4 linked regions of the Homo sapiens genome follow. The protein of the gene in region 1 purifies or fractionates together with the protein of each later gene. This does not show direct contact. Each region holds a gene or a part of one and is shown in the gene's direction. Other genes may lie near its edges.

Region 1 (3,500 bases):
TTATCCCATTATGTGTGTTTTGATGTAGCAGGACCTTACCAGTTTTTTTTGTTTTTTTATTTTTATTTTTTTTGGTTTCTTTTTTGAGATGGAGTCTTGCTGTGTTGCCCAGGCTGGAGTGCAGTGGCACAATCTTGGCTCACTGCAACCTCCACCTCCCGGGTTCAAGTGGGAGCCTCAGCCTCAGCCTCAGCCTCAGCCTCCCGAGCAGTTGGGATTACAGGCACCTGCCACCATGCCTGGCTAATTTTTGTATATTGAGTAGAGGCGGGGTTTCACCATGTTGGCCAGGCTGGTCTTGAACTCCTGACCTCATGATCTGCCGCCTTGGCCTCCCAAAGTTCTGGGATTACAGGTGTGAGCCACTGTGCCTGGCCGGCCTTATCAGTTTTTATGTAATTTGTCCTGATTTAAAAAAAAAAAATCACATGCGGGTAAACTCAACATATTTTAATTTCTCTTTAGAGAAATTTTCCACTTGAGCCAGGTATGGTGGCTCTTGCCTGTAATCTGAGCTACTCGGGAGGTTGAGGTGGGAGGATCACTTGAGCCCAGGAGTTGGAGGCTGCAGTGAGCCATGATCGCACCATTGCACTCCAGCCTGGACAACAGAGTGAGATCCTGTCTCAAAAATTAAAAAAAGCAGTAATTTTTTCTTCTCAAGTCATTCTTTTAAAATAAATCAAAAGTATTTTAACAGAACAATCTGTTCCTCGTTGATTTTAAACAGCCCCCCAGCTAAGTCCACTGGTTGTCGGTCTCCATGGCCCATCTCCCCACCTTGCTTCCTCGCTGGCTTAAATTTTCAAGTGGACGAGCCCTTTTCAGCTTGGCTTGTCCACCTCCCAGGTGTGTTTCCTGAAGATGCTTGTACTTATGTCTAAGAGCGGCAGCTCCCCACATCTCAGCCACCTGCAATCGTTGAGGGTTGTTGGACTCTAAACTTATGTGCCTTTCCTGTTTCCTCTTTGCCTTTTGCAAATTGAAGAACCGTGTAAAACCATTTTTATGTGGCTTCAACGTCAACTATAAATTAGCTTGGTTATCTTCTAGGAGAAATGCTATTTATTTTGGAGTAGTAGTAAAAAGGGCTCAAAGGATAAGGAGGCCATTCAGGCCTATTCTGAATCCCTGATGACATCAGCTCCCAAGGGCTCTGTGCTGCAGGAAGCAAAACTGTAGGTGGGTACCAGGTAATGCCGTGCGCCTCCCCGCCCCCTCCCATATCAAGTAGAATGCTGGCGGCTTAAAACATTTGGGGTCCTGCTCATTCCTTCAGCCTCAACTTCACCTGGAGTGTCTACAGACTGAAGATGCATATTTGTGTATTTTGCTTTTGGAGAAACTGCCCTTCCTATGTTCTGAGTGAATAGCAGTTTTTTTGATCCCAGAGGGCAACTTGTATTCTGTGGGCTGGTGCCTATTTGCAAGGTCACATTAGAAAGACAGGAGCAAGGCTTAGGCCTGCTGCTTCTGGAATCTCTTGTGCAATAGACTCCCCTGGGGAAGTCTGCTAGAAATGCAGATCCCTGGGCAGCCTTCTAGCCTTCTGGAATAGGATCATGGTGGGACCCTGGAATCTGTATTTTAATGGACCCTAATGAGATTCTGATGTAGAAACATGTTTGAGAGGCATTGATCTAAATCTGGGATGACTGGCCAGGTGCGGTGGCTCACACCTGTAATCCAGCACTTTGGGAGGCCGAAGCAGGTGGATCATTTGAGGTCAGGAGTTCAAGACCAGCCTGGCCAACATGGTGAAAACCTGTCTCTACTAAAAATACAAAAAAAATTAGCTGGGTGTGGTGGCACACGCTTGTAATCCCAGCTACTCAGGAGGCTGAGGCAGGAGAATCGCTTGAACCCGGGAGATGGAGGTTGCAGTGAGCCAAGATCGTGCCACTGCACTCCAGCCTGGGTGACAGAGTGAGACTCCGTCTCAAAAAAATAAAACTAAAATAAATAAATAAATAAATACATCTGGGATGACTGACCAAGAACAAAGAATGTAGGCATCAACTGAACACCAACTGTATACCTGGGACTGGATCTGAGGGTAGGATTGCCAGATTGAGCACAAACAAACAAACGAAACACAAGAAACAACAGAAGGGTGCCTGTTAAATATGAATTTCTGGTAAGCAATAAGTAATTTTTATTGTGTTCCTGTGCAATGATAGGACGCACGTATCCTGAAAACCTGTCTGTAGTTCACCTGAAATTCACATTTAACTAGGCGTTCTGATTTTATGTGGCCGCCCTATCTGCTGGGAACATAGGCTGATGCCCCTGGGGGTTCTGCGTTTCCTTGGCCAGGTTCCTGTAGGGCTGAGGTCATGGGGGAGCCGTGGCCAGGGATGGTGTCCTTGCCAGGGGAGGTGACGGGCAGAGCTGCAGGCCCTACAACTTGGGGTTGGGCAGGGATGAGTCGCTCTACCGTGGTGCCTCTGATAATAGCTGTTATTTTAGTTTCTGAAAAATGTGCTGCCCTCAAGAGCTTCTGAGGCTAGGCCTACTTGGGTGAAAATAGCTTTCCAGGGAGCCACATTGTGGGGACGTGAGGCAGCAGCCCCACTCTTTGGGGCCACTTGGCTGTCTCTAACTCATCTCACTTGCCAGGGCTGGACAAGGAGATGAAAAAGAAAATGCCAAGGGGTGGGCAGGCAGGAGCCTGTTGGCGTTGGCAGGCGCTGCCAGCCCTGTGTCCCAGTCAAGCTCTGGGGCGCCCTTCCTGTCCATCTGGGAGTAGGGGGTGGAGTCTGACCATGTTGGGGTGGAGTGTTAATATTAGGAGAGGATCCTCCCTGGGACAGGGTCCCCAGGCTTGGGGGCAAGGCCTTCTGCCTGGACCCCCTTCCTTTCCTCTCTCCCAGGATTCCTCCAGGACACCGTAGTGCTGTGCACGGTTTGGCCCCATCGGTGTGCCTGCTCCTTCCAGCCACTGCTCCCTTCTGCAGAAACTTGCCTGGGATTCCCAGGGTGCAGGGGTGGGGGCTGGTCAGGGGCTGGTCAGGGCCTGGTCAGTGTAGAGCAGGGAGCTTTTCACTTTTAGCATAGATAGAGTGGCCAGGGCCCCATGGCTGCACCTCCCTGGACATAACCAGGATGTCCTGTCATCTGCCCCCCAAACAAAACTGGGGTCTCCCCTTTATTTTGCCAACAGAATCCAATTTTTAGGTGATGAGACAAGTGTTTGACTTGAAAAGACCCTCCTGCCCTGCCTCCTGGAAGGTCTGGAGCCCAGCCCAGCGCCCCGGATCCCCTAGGCATGTGAAACGGGGAATGCAGTGTCCTCCAGTGGCTGGCTGCAGCTTGGGGTGGGCACCTGGGTGGTGGCTGGTGGTCCCCCTGCAGGCCACTGCTGCCCCCTCTTGGGTCCTGTTCTGAGTCTCAGGCCTGAGTCCCTGGGGAAGGCCCCACACCTTTGCCCTGTACCTGGGTATGGGGATGGCCCTGAGGGGCTGCCTTGCTTGGGAGAAGGGGGGAAAACAGATATTTTT
Region 2 (3,500 bases), on another chromosome or scaffold:
ACCCTTCCCTGAGAACCTGGGTTTGAAATTGTCTGACAGGCCTCAGATGTGGCACAGACCAGCATTGTCACTTGGGTGCTAAGAAGTTGCTGTGCTGGTCATGGATTAAGATTGCTGTGCGTGTGGCAGCCGGCTCGGGCATGCGAGTCTTCCATCCACTTGCAGCCCTGCGTCTGTGTCTTGTCCGGGAGGTGGGGGCAGTTGGGAGGGTTAGAGGCGGCTCCTTTCTGGGTGCCCCTGGAGGGGCAGGTGTGGCCAGTCCTCGCTGCCTCTGCTGTCTGGAATGCTGCTTCCCTCTTGTGTCATTGACCATTTCTCGTGATGCTGGTTGTGACTCAGGAGAGTAGATGACGGGCCGTGTGCCGGCCGGATGTACGCTGACGGTGCCTCTGCTGCTGCAGGTGTACGCGGTGGAGGCCAGTGAGATGGCACAGCACACGGGGCAGCTGGTCCTGCAGAACGGCTTTGCTGACATCATCACCGTGTACCAGCAGAAGGTGGAGGATGTGGTGCTGCCCGAGAAGGTGGACGTGCTGGTGTCTGAGTGGATGGGGACCTGCCTGCTGGTGAGGGCGGGCGTGCGGGCAGCTGGGGGCCGGAGCTGGGGGGCTTCTGAGCACGGGCTCGGCTGGGCCAACCTCAGGATCTCAAGGGTCGTGCGTGATTCATTTTGATGTTTTCCCTAATGTGAGGTCTAATTAATTTCTTGTGTGGACATTGGCTCAGTGTCTTGAATTTTCACCTGATTTAAAAAATGCCTTTATGAGAAATTTAAGTCAAAGTTCATGTAACATTTTCATGAGTGATTTACATGAACTGTGTTCTCCTCGGGGATCTGTAAAAATCCTGTGCCTAACAGGTAAGGCTGTTTCTTTAATGCCAGTAGGGCCTTCGTCCCTGGCCAGGGTCTCCTCGCCTTAGACTGGCCCCAGTGATGCTGTGAAGCCACTTGGGCATCTGTAGGGCCAGCATATGCCTGTCCTGTCAGGGTTGCTCACCCTGAGTTTCACATGTGGGTGGAAGTGGACTGTTTTCTGGTTGCCTGTGAATATGCCCTGCACAAACGCTGTCTGCTTGGAGGGAAGTTGACGGGAGTGTGGCTGGATGCTGTCTGCCCGCGCTGTCTTCCTGGGCTCAGCATCCTGGGACACAGGACATTGTAGTGGAGCATCCCAACCTGAAACTTTGTCTCAGTGTAGAGACCCAGAAAGATGGGGTCTGGGTGAAGGAGTGTGGAGTATGGCTGCTGCTTTCCAGGAAACGGTTTCCCCTGGTAACAGATGGCATTGGGCTTTTAGTCCTGTTGAAATTTTGTTGTCAGAAGATAAATGTAAATAGACTCAATGTCCATGCTGTGACTTGGCTTATTAATAACATCTGTGGAGCCATAAGATGACACACAGGAGAAACGGGCTCCACTCCTACCCCCTGAAGGGGCATTTGCCTTTGCCCTGAACAGCAGCGCCCATTCAATAAGTATCTGTTGACAGCTGGTGCCCCGGCCACGGGGACAAAAAGAGGACAGAGCAGGAGTGAGGCTGTGGTGAGGCCAAGGTTGTGTGGGCGGTGATACGGGGAAGCCTGGCTGCTGGAGTGTCCGGCTGTGCCCTGGATTGGGTGAGAGGGACACAGGAGGGACGTGGGGCAGAGGGAGGGGAGAGGAGTAGCCACTGTGTTCACCGTGTTGCCGTGTTCCAGGGCTGCCCAGTGGCCGGATTGGCCAGACTGTGTTGCATCAGGGAGGCAGAGGCCAGATGTAGGGAACTGTGTGTCTGAGGACTTTGTGCCACGTCCTGGACACCGAAGGGAGTGCCACTGGTGTGTGAGTGATGGAGTAAGAGGTGGGCTGTGTTTTGGAGGCCCCTGGGTATGTGTGGCCGGGACTGGAGGCCAGGGACTGGCTGTGGTCCAGCCCCAGCATGCAGAGAGGCCTGGGACATTCTGTGTGAGGGGAGGCCCCTCTGTGTGGGAGGTGCACAGACTTCCAGGACTGACCATGGCTTTATTGTCAGGATGCAGGAGCCAGGGCTTGGCATGGGGCAGGTGTGGGGGATGCAGAGCAGGGCCAGCAGGCAGGATGTGCTGATGGGGGCCTGGCGTGAGCAGGACGGTGCCTCCCAGCCCTGAGCCGCAGGGAGTGGGCCACCAGGACTGGCTGGGGGCCGGGGTAGGGAGGGCCCTGGGGAGGGTGGACATCTGTGTGGGTCTTGAACATAGGATGCCCATCCGATGTGCAGGGCCAGCTATTGGTTGGGCAGTGGGGACATGGCCTGGGGTCTCGGTGGGCGATGGCCTGGAGGGGCCACCCTGAGCAGGACATTTGGAGGAGTGCTGGGGTGAGTCAGACAGGACCATGTGGTGGTTTTCTCCAGTGCAGGCAGTGGAGGGGGAAGGCGGAGCTTTGCAGGTGAGGGCTTGAGGCAGTTCCGACTTCAGACTCCCCCCCAGGGAGACTGAGGGACCACCACCATCATTACTCAGGCCAAGGAGGCCCAGAACAGGGCAGACGGGGCTGCAAGAGTTCCTATGGCGATAGTTGTTGGGGCACAGGGTTGGTCGGATTTGAGGGAGGGAGGGTATGAATCTGGGAGTCGTTGGTGCGGTTGTACCCACCTTCACTTTCCGTCCCCAGGCTGCGCCTCTCCTGAGCTGCCGCATTCTCCCCTGCACCTGTGCGTCTGGCCCTCTTCACGTCCTCCTGGCCTGCTGTCTGCCTCTCCCCTGCACCTGTGCGTCTGTCCCTCTTCATGTCCTCCTTGCCTGCTGTCTGCCTGTTCTCAGAGCCCCTCAGCCCTCAGGCCTTCATCTCTCCTGGCCCATCTTCCTACTCTGACGCTGACATGTAGTAAAAGTCTGAAGACAGAGAAGAGTGCATGTGCGTTTAGCATAGGAGGGGCAGCTTTCAGTCAGTGCAGCAAGGGCATGTAGTTGTTCAGAGATGGTGCTGGAACGACTGATTTGGAGAAAAGAGGCCCTTCTTCACACCATCTGCTAAAATAAACCTCAGATGGGCTCAAGAGTTAAATATTTAAGAAAAGGAGGAAACAAAAAAATTGCTACAAGTTTATTTGTTGTTAGGATGGGAAAGGTTTTTCTAAGAACCAAGTTCATAATGAAGCTGTCAAATAAAATACTTGACAAAAAATTCCCCTTCATACATTAGCACAGCTAAAAACTATTAAATGGTAAATGCAACTAAAGAATTGCAGCTAAAGAATTGTGTGACGTAAAGAGTTGCAATAAGAAAAGCATAAGATAAAGGTAACCTCATGGAAGGTGAGCAGGGACTAGAAAGGCAGAGAAATGCCAGAGGCCAGGAGCTTGAACGTTGTTCAATGCCACCAACAATTTGAAAGTAACTGTAATAGTTTTGACCTGGGAAGTTGGCTGAGCAATCCTCTAATATCTGATGCTCCCGATGCTGAGGTTGTGGGGAAGTGTGCACCGCCATGCCCTTTTTTTGGCAGTGTAAATTGGTAAAGCCTTTTGAAGGAAAATAG
Region 3 (2,398 bases), on another chromosome or scaffold:
CTATTAGAGGCTGGGAAGGGTACAGAGGAGAGGAGAATAAGGAGAGGTTGGTTAACAGATACAAAATTACCGCTAGATAGGCAGAATAAGTTCTAGTGTTCTATAGCACTATAGGGTAAAGGGATTAATAATTTTTGGTTATTTTCAAAAAACTAAAAGGATTGTGAATGTTCACAACACAATGATAACTGAGACATAAATATGCTAATTACCTTGATTTGATCATTACAAATTGTATGTGTGTATTGAAATATCACTATGTATCCCATGAATTTTTTTTCTGTGTGCTCCCGTTCACAATACAGACAAGGCGCAGGGCCTGGGCTGAGGTGTACATGGGAGTTCACCTCCTCATTCTATACAGTCAGTATAAGAACACAGCCTGGGGTAAGCACCAGGAGGCCTGGGGATTTTTTTTCTTTCTTTCTTTTTTTAAAAGATGGTTGGTTATTTGTTTTGTTTTGTTTTGGCAGGGTCTTGCCCTGGTGCCCAAGCTGGAGTGTGCAGTGGCATGATCTCGGCTCATTGCAGCCTCAGCCTCCTGGGTTTAAGCCATCCTCCTGCCTCAGCCCCCCAAGTAGCTGGGATCACAGGCGCACCACCGCACCTGGCTAATTTTTTTTTTTTTTAGACGGAGTCTCGCTCTGTTGCCCAGGCTGGAGTGCAGTGGCATGGTCTCAGCTCACTGCAACCTTGCCTCCCAGATTCAAGCAGTTCTCCTGCCTCAGCCTCCCGAGTAGCTGGGATTACAGGCACCCGCCACCACACCTAATTTTTGTATTTTTAGTAGAGATGGGATTTCACTATTTTGGCCAGGCTGGTCTCGAACTCCTGACCTCATGGTGATCCACCCGCCTCAGCCTCCCAAAGCGCTGGGATTACAGGCGTGAGCCACCGCATCCAGCATTTTTTTTTTTTTTTCAGCAGAGACGGTTTTTTTTTTTTTTTTTTTTTCTAGCATAGACACGGTTTCACCATGTTGCCCAGGCGGGTCTAGAACTCCTGAGCTCAAGCTATCTGCCCACCTTGGCTTCCCAAAGTGCTGGAATTACTGGCTTGAGCAATTGTGCCCATCAGTATCCCATAAATTTGTAGTTATTACATGTCACTAAAACTAACGGGAAAAAAAGCATAGCAGTTCTTCCTATGCAAAAAAAAAAAAAAAAAAAACGGTACTCTGCAAATTATTTTTTTAATTTAAAGGAATACCAATATAGGCCGGGCGCGGTGGCTCACGCCTGTAATCCCAGCACTTTGGGAAGCCGAGACGGATGGATCACAAGGTCAGGAGATCGAGACCATCCTGGCTAACATGGTGAAACCCCGTCTCTACTAAAAATACAAAAAAAAATTAGCTGGGCGTGGTGGCAGGCGCCTGTAGTCCCAGCTGCTCGGGAGGGTGAGGCAGGAGAATGGCGTGAACCTGGGAGGTGGAGCTTGCAGTGAGCTGAGATCGCGCCACTGCACTCCAGCCTGGGCGAAAGAGCGAGACTCCGTCTCAAAAAAAAAAAAAAAAAAAAAAGAAATACTAATATATAGATTAAATAGAAATAAAACAAAGTTTTAGAAAAAAGTTTTATTTTCATTGCTCTTTTATTTTCACTCAAATTTTTTATTTGGCCATTTTACATGTATTTCAGACTAACGGAAATACTTTTTAATCTTCATTATTGTAATACTACTATTTGAACAAAATAATTATTGTGATAAATACAAAATAGGATAAAATAATTAGGCCAGGCATGCTGGCTCATGCCTGTAATCCGAGCACTTTGGGAGGCTGAGGTAGGAGGATCACCTGAGCCCAGGAGTTTGAGACCAGCCTGGGCAACATAGTGAGATCCCCATCTCTAAAAAAAGGAAAATAATTTTTAGTTGACCCTTATTGTAACTTTGATGTAAGTACATTACAGTACAATTTTTCAAGTCCACATATGAGGCGGTGGTTTTTTAATGTATGAATGAGGAATAATTACATTGTTGGTTAACTATCTAAGGGGCCTGAAGGGGACAGGGGAGTTAGTGGCCATTTCCTAACAAACAGACAAGTATTTTAAAGTGGGTTTTACTGCAGTTACATAAAGCATGGTTCTAGTTCACTTAGGAAGTATCATAAATATTTGGAGATATAATACATTAAGTTCCTGTTTGGGGATTCAGTACCAAGATTATTTCTGGCATGGTTAATAATGCCCGTAAAGAAACTTAGTATGTTGCATGGGAGGTATTTTTCATTCCTTCTGTGTAACTAGCCAAATTCTTGACAGGCAAAATTGGGTGACCAAGGAAACCTCTCTGAACTGGTTAATCTCATCTTGACGGTGGCTGATGGAGACAAAGATGGCCAGGTTTCCTTGGGAGAAGCAAAGTCGGCATGGGCACTTCTTCAACTGAATGA
Region 4 (3,500 bases), on another chromosome or scaffold:
ATGCCTCCTACCTCCCAGCCTCTGTACCCACCATTCTGCTCTCGTATTAGGAGTTCAATTGTTTTAGATTCCACATATAAGTGAAAATGTGCAGTATTTGTCTTTCTGTGCTTGACTCATTTCACTCAGCACAGTGTTTTCCAGTTCCATCCATGTTGTTGCAAATGACAGAATTTTCTTCTTTTTAAAGGCTGAATAGTATTTCATTGTGTATATATACACATTTTCTTCATCCATTCATCTGTTGATGGACACTTACCTTGATTCCATAACTTAGCTATTGTTCATACTGCTGCAGTGAACATGGGGGTGCAGACAGCTCTTTGACAAACTGATTTTAGATCTTTTGGGTAAATAGTAAAGTGGGATTACTGGATTATATGGTAATTCTGTTTTTAGTTTTTTGAGGACCTTCCATACTGTTTTTTATAATGGCTGTACTAATTGACATTTTCACAAAGCATCCCTTTTCTCCACATCTTCATCAGCACTTACTCTCTTTCATCTTTTTGATAAAAGCCATTCTGACAGGTGTGAAATGATATTGGGGTTTTAATTTGCATTTCTCTAATGACTAGTGATGTTGAGCATTTTTCATGTATTAATATCTTTTGCTCATTTATATGTTTTCTTTTGAGAAACATCTAGGTCCCTTGCCTTTTTTTTTTTTTTTTTTTTTGAGACAGGAGTTCGCTCTGTCACCCAGGCTGGAGTGCGGTGGCACGATCTCGGCTCACTGCAACCTCCACCTCCTGGGTTCAAGTGATTCTCCTGCCTCTGCTTCCCAAGTAGCTGGGATTATAGGTGCACGCCACCCCACCTGGCTAATTTTTCTGTTTTTATTAGAGACGGGTTTCACCATGTTGGTCAGGCTGGTCTCGATCCCCTGACCTTAAGTGATCTGCCCACCTTGGCCTCCCAAAGTGCTGGGATTACAGGTGTGAGCTGTAACGCCCAGCCCCTTGCCCATTCTTTTTTTTTTAATTTTTTTTATCTTTTTTTATTTTTTGAGACGGAGTCTTGCTCTGTCGCCCAGGCTGGAGTGCAGTGGCGTGATCTCGGCTCACTGCAAGCTCCACCTCCTGGGTTCACGCCATTCTCCTGCCTCGGCCTCCCGAGTAGCTGGGACTACAGGTGCTCGCCACCACGCCCGGCTAATTTTTTGTATTTTTAGTAGAGACGGTGTTTCACCGTGTTAGCCAGGATGGTCTCGATCTCCTGACCTCGTAATCCGCCCGCCTTGGCCTCCCAAAGTGCTGGGATTACAGGGGTGAGCCACCACGCCCGGCCTGCCCATTCTTTTAATTGGGTTTTTTGTTTTCTTGCTATTGAGTTGTTTGAGCTTATGTATTTTGGATATTAACTCCTTCTTGGATATATGGCTTGCTAATTTTATCTCCCAGTACCTAAGTTGTCTATGTCTACTGTTAATTGTTTCCTTTGTGCAAAGAAGCTTTTTATATTGATGTAATCCCATTTGTCTATTTTTGCTTTTGTTGCCCGTGCTTTTGGGATCAAATCCAAAAAATCATTGCTCAGACCAGTGTTATGTAGTGTTCTCCCTATGTTTTCTTCTAGCAGTTTTACAGTTTCTGGTCTTACAGTAAAGGTATCTTGGTAAGGTTACATAATCAAACAAATACTAATTGTCCAATACCATGTATGTGCTACATACAAATTCAGCATTTGTTAGTGTGGTTTGTATTCTTGGAGCCTTCTGGGAAATGAACTTACATTTAAAGATTTAAGACTGACTGTTAATTAACTCTCTCTTCTTCTCTATCCTAGTTTCTCTTTCTATGATTGGGCCTCATGGATATATCTCTGCATCAGATTGGCCCCTAATGATTGTGAGTATTTCTCATCATTTTTTCCTTTTTAAAAAATGAATTTTATACCCTAAGAGCTTTGTGGTAGTAATTCCTCAGTAGTTAATGCTTTGACATATCCTGTATTTCTGGTTCCAGAGTGACTGGAAAATGAAGGGTTGGATACTTGAATGTAGAAGTGCCAACTTTCAAATGACCAAAAGGCTTAACTGACTAAAATTGCTTCTCTTCCTACAGTTTTACATGGTGATGTGTATTGTTTATATATTATATGGCATACTCTGGCTGACGTGGTCTGCCTGTTATTGGAAAGATATATTAAGAATCCAGTTCTGGATTGCAGCTGTTATTTTTTTGGGAATGCTTGAAAAAGCAGTTTTTTATAGTGAATACCAAAACATCAGCAACACTGGACTGTCAAGTAAGTTTTGACTGTCTCTGTAAATATAGTATGATCTAAGAGTTCCCCAGTATTTATGAGCAGAGCAGTGGGAGGCCCCCTTCTGAACAGTGGTTTGGAAACAGATATATTATAGATGAAGAGAAGGAAAGCCAAGGAAAGAATGTCAGAGTAGGCCTCTGATCTGGCCAAGCATGTGTCTTCTCTTCATTATCTGTTTTCCTTCTTGCTAAATTTCCCCTCACTTTCCTCCTGGGAAAAATAAAAGTCCCGTTTCCTAAGGTTCAGCTTGGATTAAAACAGCACAAAGTTCGGGACAGGGAGACTTCAGGTGCTGTCAATCCTTTTAACATACTTCTCCTTCCCCCCACATCTTCTTTTCTTTCTCCTTCTCCTTCAAAAAACGAAAGGAAATTGGCCGCAGGGAGTAAAATCAGGGGTGCTGGAAGGGATGGTGCCTGCAGCCTCCTTGTGCTCTCCCCACCTCTTTACTCCCACAAAGATCTTCATATAACCAGTGGAGGCACCATCACAGTTTACGCAGTGGAATATGTGAAGCAGGCAGGCCATACAGCTGGGCATCCTCAGATGTGTGCCCCAGACTTCTAGAAAGTGGATTTCAGGCCAGAGAAGTAAAGGTACAACTCTCCCACCAAAGCTTTGGAAAGAGAGAGCTCAGAGAGGTTGAAGGTGCTCAAGAGTGTACTTCTGAGTGACCAGTTACAAATGATCTTGGTGCAGATCTTCAAAGGGCATGATTTTGTCTGTTATTGATTGATTGACAAGGTCTTGATCTGTTGCCCGGTCTAGAGTGCAGTGGTGCGATTTTTGCTCACTGCAGCCTCGACCTCCAGGCCCAAATGATCTGCCCACCTCAGCCTCTGGAGTAGCTGGCACTATGTGTCTGTTACTTATTTTGAAATACTCTAGAAAAAAAATGAATTGGACTATAGATGAAACAAATTTGGCGTAACGTTGCTAATTATTGAAGCTGCATGATGGGCACAAGGGAAATCATTATATTGCTTTCTCTCTTTTTGGGAGTATTTGAAATTTCCCCAAATAAAAAGTTTAAAAGGACATGTACCAAAGAATAAAGAAAGGACAAACATCCAGGATGCATATTAGAGATATCACTACTCTGTAAGAAGTTTTTTATGGTGTGTGTGTGTGTGTGTGCGTGTGCGTGTGCGTGCATGTGTGCTCTAAACCAGATGATGAAGGAAGGGTAGATCTGCTGCTTAGAATTGAAGCATTCCTGAATGTAGAGA

Evidence for each region. The genes of interacting proteins can lie anywhere in the genome.
Region 2: the proteins of SCARB1 (region 1) and PRMT2 purify together in Homo sapiens (pull-down; one study listed by IntAct). This does not show direct contact.
Region 3: the proteins of SCARB1 (region 1) and DIPK1A purify together in Homo sapiens (co-immunoprecipitation; one large-scale study listed by IntAct). This does not show direct contact.
Region 4: the proteins of SCARB1 (region 1) and TMEM87B fractionate together in Homo sapiens (co-fractionation; one large-scale study listed by BioGRID). This does not show direct contact.

Annotation. Positions count from the first base shown.
Region 1 is NC_000012.12:124,780,365-124,783,864, reverse strand, and holds part of SCARB1 (scavenger receptor class B member 1), read left to right. Parts: intron 1-1,053; coding exon 1,054-1,182; exon of another isoform or gene 1,183-1,193; intron 1,194-3,163; exon of another isoform or gene 3,164-3,266; intron 3,267-3,500. UniProt on the Homo sapiens protein: Receptor for different ligands such as phospholipids, cholesterol ester, lipoproteins, phosphatidylserine and apoptotic cells. Receptor for HDL, mediating selective uptake of cholesteryl ether and HDL-dependent cholesterol efflux.
Region 2 is NC_000021.9:46,649,174-46,652,673, forward strand, and holds part of PRMT2 (protein arginine N-methyltransferase 2), read left to right. Parts: intron 1-401; coding exon 402-566; intron 567-2,632; coding exon of another isoform or gene 2,633-2,833; exon of another isoform or gene 2,834-3,500. UniProt on the Homo sapiens protein: Arginine methyltransferase that methylates the guanidino nitrogens of arginyl residues in proteins such as STAT3, FBL, histone H4. Acts as a coactivator (with NCOA2) of the androgen receptor (AR)-mediated transactivation.
Region 3 is NC_000001.11:92,844,065-92,846,462, reverse strand, and holds part of DIPK1A (divergent protein kinase domain 1A), read left to right. Parts: intron 1-280; exon of another isoform or gene 281-404; intron 405-2,267; coding exon 2,268-2,398.
Region 4 is NC_000002.12:112,079,269-112,082,768, forward strand, and holds part of TMEM87B (transmembrane protein 87B isoform 1 precursor), read left to right. Parts: intron 1-1,788; coding exon 1,789-1,850; intron 1,851-2,066; coding exon 2,067-2,250; intron 2,251-3,500. UniProt on the Homo sapiens protein: May be involved in retrograde transport from endosomes to the trans-Golgi network (TGN).